Linked DNA regions of Homo sapiens. The protein of the gene in region 1 purifies or fractionates together with the protein of each later gene. This does not show direct contact. Each region holds a gene or a part of one and is shown in the gene's direction. Other genes may lie near its edges.

Region 1 (3,146 bases):
TCACTATGTTGCTCAGGCTGGTCTCAAACTGGCCTCAGTGTCTTGCAGTGCTGGGATTACAGGCATTGTTTGTTGTTTCTTAACTTTGTTTATGGTATCTCTTGCCACAGTAAAATTTTAAAGTTTTATGTAGTCAAATGTCTCTCTTCTCTTTTACAGTTTCTGGGTTTCCAGTCTTGGTTAAGAAGGTCACCCGCACCCTCAGATTGTATATGTAGTCTCCTAGATTCTCTTTCAGGATTTGTATGATTTTAAGGTTTTCATTTTTTTTTTAAAGCCAGTCAAATTTAGCAGTTGGGGGTTGTGTACCAACTTTAGTGACAATAATGTCACTACCCGCTACCATCAGAGCAGCCTAAGGTTCTTATTTTCATGCATTAAATCTTTGTATACAGTGTAAGACAAGCATGCAATTTTATTTCCTCTCGGATGAATGCTATTATAATTATGCCACTACATACTACATACCCGCATCTTTTACCCCCAGAATTGAACTACCAACTTCAACATACATCGTATTCTCATATTTAATAGATTTTAAGACTTCAAAACGACACAAAGAGGATCAGAACCCGTATGTGATATTTTTGTGCGTCCTGTCTGGTGACCGTTGGTTCACCTTATCTCTGTTTCCCTTTCAGGTGCTGCTAGCTGAGGAGGGGATAGCTCCTCTTTCTTCTGCAGGACCAGGGAAAGAGGAGAAACTCCTGTTTGGAGAAGGGTTTTCTCCTTTGCTTCCAGTTCAGACTATCAAGGAGGAAGAAATCCAGCCTGGGGAGGAAATGCCACACTTAGCGAGACCCATCAAAGTGGAGAGCCCTCCCTTGGAAGAGTGGCCCTCCCCGGCCCCATCTTTCAAAGAGGAATCATCTCACTCCTGGGAGGATTCGTCCCAATCTCCCACCCCAAGACCCAAGAAGTCCTACAGTGGGCTTAGGTCCCCAACCCGGTGTGTCTCGGAAATGCTTGTGATTCAACACAGGGAGAGGAGGGAGAGGAGCCGGTCTCGGAGAAAACAGCATCTACTGCCTCCCTGTGTGGATGAGCCGGAGCTGCTCTTCTCAGAGGGGCCCAGTACTTCCCGCTGGGCCGCAGAGCTCCCGTTCCCAGCAGACTCCTCTGACCCTGCCTCCCAGCTCAGCTACTCCCAGGAAGTGGGAGGACCTTTTAAGACACCCATTAAGGAAACGCTGCCCATCTCCTCCACCCCGAGCAAATCTGTCCTCCCCAGAACCCCTGAATCCTGGAGGCTCACGCCCCCAGCCAAAGTAGGGGGACTGGATTTCAGCCCAGTACAAACCTCCCAGGGTGCCTCTGACCCCTTGCCTGACCCCCTGGGGCTGATGGATCTCAGCACCACTCCCTTGCAAAGTGCTCCCCCCCTTGAATCACCGCAAAGGCTCCTCAGTTCAGAACCCTTAGACCTCATCTCCGTCCCCTTTGGCAACTCTTCTCCCTCAGATATAGACGTCCCCAAGCCAGGCTCCCCGGAGCCACAGGTTTCTGGCCTTGCAGCCAATCGTTCTCTGACAGAAGGCCTGGTCCTGGACACAATGAATGACAGCCTCAGCAAGATCCTGCTGGACATCAGCTTTCCTGGCCTGGACGAGGACCCACTGGGCCCTGACAACATCAACTGGTCCCAGTTTATTCCTGAGCTACAGTAGAGCCCTGCCCTTGCCCCTGTGCTCAAGCTGTCCACCATCCCGGGCACTCCAAGGCTCAGTGCACCCCAAGCCTCTGAGTGAGGACAGCAGGCAGGGACTGTTCTGCTCCTCATAGCTCCCTGCTGCCTGATTATGCAAAAGTAGCAGTCACACCCTAGCCACTGCTGGGACCTTGTGTTCCCCAAGAGTATCTGATTCCTCTGCTGTCCCTGCCAGGAGCTGAAGGGTGGGAACAACAAAGGCAATGGTGAAAAGAGATTAGGAACCCCCCAGCCTGTTTCCATTCTCTGCCCAGCAGTCTCTTACCTTCCCTGATCTTTGCAGGGTGGTCCGTGTAAATAGTATAAATTCTCCAAATTATCCTCTAATTATAAATGTAAGCTTATTTCCTTAGATCATTATCCAGAGACTGCCAGAAGGTGGGTAGGATGACCTGGGGTTTCAATTGACTTCTGTTCCTTGCTTTTAGTTTTGATAGAAGGGAAGACCTGCAGTGCACGGTTTCTTCCAGGCTGAGGTACCTGGATCTTGGGTTCTTCACTGCAGGGACCCAGACAAGTGGATCTGCTTGCCAGAGTCCTTTTTGCCCCTCCCTGCCACCTCCCCGTGTTTCCAAGTCAGCTTTCCTGCAAGAAGAAATCCTGGTTAAAAAAGTCTTTTGTATTGGGTCAGGAGTTGAATTTGGGGTGGGAGGATGGATGCAACTGAAGCAGAGTGTGGGTGCCCAGATGTGCGCTATTAGATGTTTCTCTGATAATGTCCCCAATCATACCAGGGAGACTGGCATTGACGAGAACTCAGGTGGAGGCTTGAGAAGGCCGAAAGGGCCCCTGACCTGCCTGGCTTCCTTAGCTTGCCCCTCAGCTTTGCAAAGAGCCACCCTAGGCCCCAGCTGACCGCATGGGTGTGAGCCAGCTTGAGAACACTAACTACTCAATAAAAGCGAAGGTGGACATGCTGGGCTCTGTGGTTTATTGGCGTCTGATTCCTAAGGCACCAGGAGAGGCTGGAAAAGAAAGAGGGTGTTGATGGAGACGATGGTGATAGGGAAGAGGCAAGGCCTGAAGTTCACCCAAAGCAGCAGTTGGAGCACTTGCACAGGCACACACTTGACAACACAAATTGCCAGTTTTCCCAGTGCTAGTCCTGCACAGCTCACCTCTTTTCCCTGGCGTCTCTGACCTTGTTCCTTGGGACCTTTGGACCTGCTGGTTAACTTAGGCCTTTTGAGGGTTCTTAATAAGACAAGCTCACGAGGGGTAGGGCCCCCTGAACATTAGGGCAGGAAGGGCCCAGTTACAGGTGCTTCATTCCCACTGCCATCCCCACCCTGAGGCCTGGGAGCCAGCCTGCCCTGCTTTTCTTCTGCCCGGCAGCAGCTCCTGTTACAGTTTTTTGCAGTCAGAACTTGAAGAAAGTGCTATCCCCTGCCTGTCTAACCTGAAAAGTAGCCAGGGGCCCAAGGGTCACAAGAGGCTC
Region 2 (3,751 bases), 4.0 Mb from region 1:
AAGAGCTCCAAAGCCCAAGAAGGAGCAGGTGGAAAGATAAATGGTGACTGGTGTTGCTGTTGAATGGCGACGATGAGCTGGTGTTCCTCAGCCCCCTGATGTCCTTGTTGGTTGTTATCAAAGTCATGGGAGGAAATGGGGAGAATCTTAGCTATGTCCCAGGTCCTAAAAGGCTAAATAACTTGCCAAGGGCCACACAGTGTTAGAGAACAGAACATTTCTTCTGGAACCCAGCAGTTTCTGACTCCAGGTTTTGGTTTCCTCACCTGACCAGGCTTCATAACATCCTCGTGTTTTCACCCTTACCTCTTGTCCCACAGGAGTCTGAGGGGGGCCTCTACATCTGTATGAACACGTTTCTGGGCTTTGGGAAACAGTATGTGGAGAGACATTTCAATAAGACCGGCCAGCGAGTCTACTTGCACCTCCGGCGGACCCGGCGCCCGGTAGGAGCAGGGCTGGGGCAAGGCCTGGGTACATTGTCTGTTCCATTCTGACCTCCTATTGGACTCAGTTTCTTTTTTTCACCTACTTTTGTGTCATTAAAGCTTGGCACAGATGTTTTTTAGCTTTATTCCGTTCTGAGATGAAGCACTACCTCCTTCCGTCCCTCCTCCCGACTTGTTCCTTCGCTCGTGCTCATTGCTGATCCAGCCCTTCCTGCTTCTTTACAGAAAGAGGAGGACCCTGCTACAGGCACTGGAGACCCACCCCGGAAGAAGCCCACGCGGCTGGCTATTGGTGAGCACCGCTGCAGTCCTATTCTTCTCCCTGAGCTGGTCTTTCTGGCTCTCAGCAGCACCAGGAAAGCCCCAAAGAGTGGGCCTGATTGATGGCCCTAGAACTCTGGATGGGGCAAGTGAGGTGCTGGCTCGGAGGAGGGACATTGACCTGTTGTCATTGCTCTACTCTCCCTCTTCTTCCCTATCCTTCCAGGTGTTGAAGGCGGATTTGACCTTAGCGAGGAGAAGTTTGAATTAGACGAGGATGTGAAGATTGTCATTTTGCCAGATTACCTGGAGATTGCCCGGGATGGACTGGGGGGACTGCCTGACATTGTCAGAGATCGGGTATGACTGCCCCCTATGCTACCCAAGATTCTAGAGCAAGATGGGCCAGGGTAGTGGTGTCTTAGGCAAGCACTGACAAAGCTGAAGGCCAAGGGGAAGAGGGGCATGTGGGGCAGGGGGTTGGGTATTGCCTCTGACCCTCTGCTTCCCCCAGGTGACCAGTGCAGTGGAGGCCCTACTGTCGGCCGACTCAGCCTCCCGCAAGCAGGAGGTGCAGGCATGGGATGGGGAAGTACGGCAGGTGTCTAAGCATGCCTTCAGCCTCAAGCAGTTGGACAACCCTGCTCGAATCCCTCCCTGGTGAGGCCTGGCCCCTCTGCCTCGGGCACCACCCCCAGAGCAAGGACAAGGAGCCCACTTTTCTGGGGGATCTGGTGGGAGAGAGGGTAGGGAGCAGGACAGGAAGGGAAGCTTGGAAATGAACACGACATGGGGATGGCCAGAGGAGAAGAGAGAGAGACCTTGGATTGGCGGGGGGCCTGCAGAGCCCTCTCTCTCTGCCACTCCCTCAAATCCCCGACCCACATTTCTGCTGATTCTCTTCTCTGTGGGTTAGTGGCTGGAAGTGCTCCAAGTGTGACATGAGAGAGAACCTGTGGCTCAACCTGACTGATGGCTCCATCCTCTGTGGGCGACGCTACTTCGATGGCAGTGGGGGCAACAACCACGCTGTGGAGCACTACCGAGAGACAGGCTACCCGTTAGCTGTCAAGCTGGGCACCATCACCCCTGATGGAGCTGGTACAGCCTCCCCTCCTCCAGCCACTCTCATGCTTAAATATATTTCATTTGTTAGTAATTTCGTGTGACATGTATAATACATGAATGCATTATCTTGATAAGAAAGGAAAGTAGTCAGGTGCGGTGGCTCATGTTTGCAATCCCAACACTTTGGGAGGCCAAGGCAGGAGAATTGCTTGAGCCTAGGAGTTCGAGACCAGCCTGGGCAACATAGTGAGACCTCATCTCTCCAAAAAAGAAAAAAAAAGAAAAATTGGCTGGGTGTGGTAGCTCCTGCCTGTAGTCTCACCTACTCAGGAGGCTGAGGCAGGAGGATTGTTTGAGCACCCGGGAGGTTGAGGCTGCAGTGAGCTATGATTGCACCACTGGACTCCAGCCTGGGCTACAGAGACCCTGTCTCAAAAAAGGAAAATACTGCAGATGAGACTAAATTTTTGATTACTCCCCACTCAAATCCTCATCCCTTTCCTACCAAGCCTGTCTTACCTTATCCTATACAGGTAGAATCAGAATCACAAGTAATTCCAACCCTCACCCGGTTTCATCTGTCTTCCCTGACCGTCAGCCCCAGAAGGGCCATGACCGCACTCATATTACTCATATTCAAGGGAACCAAGAGGGTGGACCTTACTGGCTCTCCTTCTGTCCCCTCAAGTCCCTTCTGTGCAAGGGATGGGATGGTGGCCTGGCTAGTCCTGAGCCACTTCCCCTGATTCTCTTCCTGCCTCCTGCTCTAGACGTGTACTCATATGATGAGGATGACATGGTCCTGGACCCCAGCCTGGCTGAGCACCTGTCCCACTTCGGCATCGACATGCTGAAGATGCAGAAGGTGAGACCCCCTTCAACTTCAGATTCTTCTACTTCCTGCCCCTGTGAGGGCCCTTCCTCTTTGCCTGAGGCTGAGGTAGGGTTTTGGAGAAATCTTCTAGTTAACCCCATCCCCAAGATACACAGGCTTCTTTTAAATATCTAAAATCATTTATTCAGTGAATAGTACTGAGTACCTACTATGTGCTAGAGGCTGTGTGAATAAGACAGATGTGGTTTTTGCTTACAAGAGTTCTACTCTAGAAGAAAAGGCAGACATTAGTCACATTCCCAGATAAATAAGTGAATAGTTGCAAACTGGTGGGCACTGTGAAAGAGAGGCGGAGGGTACTACAGTAATTGACAGCAGGGTGGCCTGGCCTAGTTTAGGGATCAGGGACATTTCCCTGAGGAAGCGATGCTTAACTGACAATGTGAAGGAGGTTAGGGGTAACTTAAGGATGGGAAAAACATTTCAGGTAGAAGGAAATTTTATTCCTCATTCAAGCAGAGGCCCTGATGACTAACGGGCCTCTGGGACAATTATGTGTGGCCTTCCAGAACTTGAACTGGACGATACTCAACATACCTCCCATGTTTGAGCCTGTAATTCCACAAATTCTAGGCCACAGTTGAGTATCATCCTAGACTCAGTGAGAGATCGAGGTAAAAACTACAGGGTTGAGTTTCTCACTCAGTCTGAAGTGCCCCTTCTCACACAGACAGACAAGACGATGACTGAGTTGGAGATAGACATGAACCAGCGGATTGGTGAATGGGAGCTGATCCAGGAGTCAGGTGTGCCACTCAAGCCCCTGTTTGGGCCTGGCTACACAGGCATCCGGAACCTGGGTAACAGCTGCTACCTCAACTCTGTGGTCCAGGTGCTCTTCAGCATCCCTGACTTCCAGAGGAAGTGAGTAGTGCCCTCTCCTTCCCCAGGCCCCCTCCTGGTCAGCACCCTCTGGGCATACTCCTCCTTCAGCTTCCCTCAGCACCTCTGTGTTTGATTCTAGTCTTAGAGTAGTTCCTATCGGCTGGGTGTGTTGGCCCACACCCGTAATCCCAGTACTTCGGGAGGCCAAGATGGGAGAATTGCTTGAGCCCAGGAGGTTGAGACCAGCCTGGGC
Region 3 (3,751 bases), on another chromosome or scaffold:
ACAGAGTTAGAAGCACAAGAGTTTTGACAGATGCACTGCGTATTCAAAGTAATGGAAAATTTGAATAGTAGAGAAGTTTGGAAAAATGTCTAGACATGATACTTTAGCTACAGTATATAGAAAGTTGTTTGAGACGTCATACTTAAGCCACAGTTGTTTACCCCTGGAGAAATGAGAGTGTTAAAAAAGATATTAAAATCATTGATTTGTTAAGAAATTATAAGAATCTGAACTATCCTAAAAGTAATCTTTGTAAAATGAACGATAATTCCAGGTTATCTGGGATTTTCTGTAGGTTATCTAAAGGAGTAAATGGAAAAGAAATAAAAAAGATTTTATTTATCAAATAAATTTTTCAAAAAACAGAAATGAAGAGAATAGGAAAAAAGTACATACATACACAAACCTTTTTTTTTTTTTTTTTTTTTTTTTTGAGACAGAGTCTTGCTCTGTCTTCCAGGCTGGAGTGCAGTGGTACTATCCTGGCTCACTGCAGTCTCTACCTCTCTACCTCTTGGGCTCAAGCAATCCTCCCACCTCAGCCTCCAGGGACTACAGGCACATGCCACCATGCCTGGCTAATTTTTTTGTATGTTTTTGTAGAGATGGGGTTTCACCATGTTGCACAGACTGGTCTTGAACTCCTGAGCTCCAGCGATCCACCCTCTTGGGCCTCCCAAAGTGAGCCACCACGCCCAGCCTACTTTAATTCTTTGAACATATTTATAACAGCTGCTTTTTTAAGTCTTTGCTAAATATCTCTCTCAATTTCTTACTGTACTTTTCTTAAGAGCCATGCTTTCCTACTTCTTTACATGTCTAGTAATTTTTGGTGGAAAACTTGATATTTCAGATAATATATTGTAGCAACTATGTATTCTAATTTTTTGGAGAGTTGTTGGATTTGCTTTAATAACTTGGCTATGCAAATACTGATGTCTCTGCTTCATTTTTTATTCTTATATTTATTATTATTATTAAACTTGATTTCCAAAGAGTTACCCCTGTGTCTGCATATAATTTAGTGGTCAGGGCTGGGTGCGGTGGCTCACGCCTGTAATCCCAACACTTTGGGAGTCTGAGGCGGGCGGATCACCTGATGTCAGGAGTTTGTGACCAGCCTGGCCAGCATGTGACACCCTGTCTCTACTAAAAATACAAAAAAAAATTAGCCGGGTGTGGTGGCGGGCACTTGTAATCCCAGCTACTCAGGAGGCTGAGGCAGGAGAATCACTTGAACCCGGGAGGTGGAGGTTGCAGTGAGCGAGATCGTGCCACTGCATTCCATCCTGGGCAACGGAGCGAGACTCCCATCTCAAAATAATAATAATAATTTAGTGGTCACCTAATGATTTGAACAGAGGTTATGCTCAAACATCTTGATCGGGAAAAGCCTCACATTGATTTATATGTGAGTTGGGGAATGTAAATACAAAGTTGCTGCTAGTTTTCAAGTCATCCTTAGCTTTTACTTTTTGCCAGACTATTGGATCTTCCCCCTCCATTTGCATAGTAACCCAGTTAGCCAGGGATGGTAGAGAGCTTATTTCCGCCCTTTTATGGCTCTCTAGTTTCCATGATCTCCCTGTTAAATTTCTGGCTGTCTTTCATGACCAGTCAAAATTCTGGCTGGTTTTCGTGACCAACCCTGAACTAATAAAACCATTCTCATCGACCACGTTGGTGGTAGTAGTGGGTGTGTGAATAACCTCGTGCAAAGAGGCCACTGAGTCCCCCTGCCCTAACCTGAAGCTCTAGCACTTCTTCAACAATAAACGTTTCTTGTTTTCTACATTTGATCCATTTCCAGTACCCTGGAATGGTTGTTTTTCACAATCTCATTCAGGTTTGTACTTGTTTTTTGTGGAGAGGAATTACCAGCCTCTTCATGCCACCATAACTAGTAGTCCTTTTCTATGCTTATATTTGTTTACTCAGCTTCATTATTTACATCTTCTGTATCCATGTTTACTTTTCCCTTAAAGGATCTGTCAGAAACTGAGAGAGATTTTAGTCCTCTACAGTTGTGTTTTTATCAATTGATCCTTTTATTTTAAACAGTCTTGCATTGTGTATTTCTGTGTTCTATTAAAATGTTGTGTATTATACTTTTTGGTTAGTATAAAATGTATTACTTTGCCCAGTTTACAGCCATCAATGCTGTTGTTCTTAAATTTTTTACTCATGCTGGATGTTTGTTTGGATTTCTCTGATGTTATTTTAGGCTGGACTTAAATAATAGTGACACAGTTCATCTGTGTCATCAGTTCCAAGACTACTAGTTTTGGTGATTCACTAGAAAGACTCAGAATACTCAGCACATGTACTCATGGGTAAGATTTGTTACAGTGAAGGACACAAAACAAAATTGGCAAAAGAATAAGGTGCTTGGGGCAAAGTCCAGAGGAAACCACGTGCAAGTTTTCAAAAGTCCTCTCCCAATAGAGTCATGCAAGACTTTTAATTCTCCCAGAAACAAGTTGTCACAATGCTTATAAGTGTTGTCTACCAGGGAAGCTCATTAGAGACTCAGTGACCAGAGTTCTACTGGGGGCTGAGTATGTAGGCATCTTTTGCCTAGTACATACTAAAATTCCAGTCTTCCAGAGGGAAAGCAGGTGTCCAGCATTAACCACATCGTTTGCACAATCTAGACACAGTAAAACCACCATTATTAATTAGGGAACAGTGGGAACACTTCCGAAATCCAAGTTCCCAGATACCAGACAAAGGCCAACCTTGCAAGGAGGTTTTCCTAAGTATAGCAGCATCAGGCCTGCAGTATTAACTTCTTTAATTATTTTCTACACAACATCTTTGTCTTTTTTTTTAAATTGAACTACTCCTGGTGCTTCACTCATGAGTATAATGACCAAAGTTCTTTTGTTGTTTTTTTTGCAGTTAAATGATTTAAAATATTTTTCTCTTAATTTGGGAGTAATATAATTTTATTCAAATATGAAATTAGGGATCATCATTTATAGTTTTTGTTTTTGTTTCAAAAATTCTTTGTTGTTTCTCTAAGCCAAAAATAAAGTGTGTGCTTGTTTTGAAACTCTAATAGACAAAATACTGTACTATGATTTAAATTACATGCTTGGAACAGTTTTATATTTGACTATTCTTTGTATCTCCCACACATCATAATGCCTTTGTTCTTTTCTCAGCACGATTACGTGGTGTTCATGATGGTTTGTTCACTGGACAAATAGATGCTGTGGATACTCTTAATGCTACTTATAGAGTAACTTTTGATAGGACAGGGCTTGGAACCCATACCATCCCTGACTATGAAGTTCTCGTAAGTAGTATTTCATAATACATTTGTGTTTTATGCCTGTTAAATGTGTTATATAGAGTTTTTTTAGAAATCGTATTTTATGATAGAATCAAGACTTTATCTCACAGAGGAAGAGATCCTTAGGGGACCCCAGCCCTATCTGCTAGACCCCTGGTTCGGATCTATACTTAAGTCTTCCATTTGCCAGGAACTAGCATTTCTCTGTTGGACCTTAACGACACAGCACTTTAGTATAACCAAACTGATGAGTCCTGACTAAATAACCTTGGAGAAGAAGCTACATAACATTTTCATTGCAGCTGTTAGGTTAAAGTATAGTCCTCTTGCAAAATTGTTTTTAAAGTATAGTAACATCTTGTACTTATTTGTTCTCCTGTTTTATCTTCAGAGGCATGCAAGGTGGGTGTTAATTACCTTCACTTTTGCATGATGAAACTCAGACATAAGTAC

What was found.
Region 2: the proteins of FOXM1 (region 1) and USP5 purify together in Homo sapiens (affinity purification with western blotting; 2 studies listed by BioGRID). This does not show direct contact.
Region 3: the proteins of FOXM1 (region 1) and LIN9 purify together in Homo sapiens (affinity purification with western blotting; 2 studies listed by BioGRID and IntAct, with this or other methods). This does not show direct contact.

What each region holds. Positions count from the first base shown.
Region 1 is NC_000012.12:2,857,159-2,860,304, reverse strand, and holds the end of FOXM1 (forkhead box protein M1), read left to right. Parts: intron 1-513; exon of another isoform or gene 514-641; coding exon 642-1,667; 3' UTR 1,668-2,625; downstream 2,626-3,146. UniProt on the Homo sapiens protein: Transcription factor regulating the expression of cell cycle genes essential for DNA replication and mitosis. Plays a role in the control of cell proliferation. Also plays a role in DNA break repair, participating in the DNA damage checkpoint response.
Region 2 is NC_000012.12:6,855,081-6,858,831, forward strand, and holds part of USP5 (ubiquitin carboxyl-terminal hydrolase 5), read left to right. Parts: intron 1-274; exon of another isoform or gene 275-320; coding exon 321-446; intron 447-548; exon of another isoform or gene 549-674; coding exon 675-741; intron 742-936; coding exon 937-1,070; intron 1,071-1,224; coding exon 1,225-1,370; intron 1,371-1,626; coding exon 1,627-1,811; intron 1,812-2,548; coding exon 2,549-2,643; intron 2,644-3,343; coding exon 3,344-3,537; intron 3,538-3,751. UniProt on the Homo sapiens protein: Deubiquitinating enzyme that participates in a wide range of cellular processes by specifically cleaving isopeptide bonds between ubiquitin and substrate proteins or ubiquitin itself.
Region 3 is NC_000001.11:226,267,507-226,271,257, reverse strand, and holds part of LIN9 (protein lin-9 homolog), read left to right. Parts: intron 1-3,167; coding exon 3,168-3,301; intron 3,302-3,751. UniProt on the Homo sapiens protein: Acts as a tumor suppressor. Inhibits DNA synthesis. Its ability to inhibit oncogenic transformation is mediated through its association with RB1. Plays a role in the expression of genes required for the G1/S transition.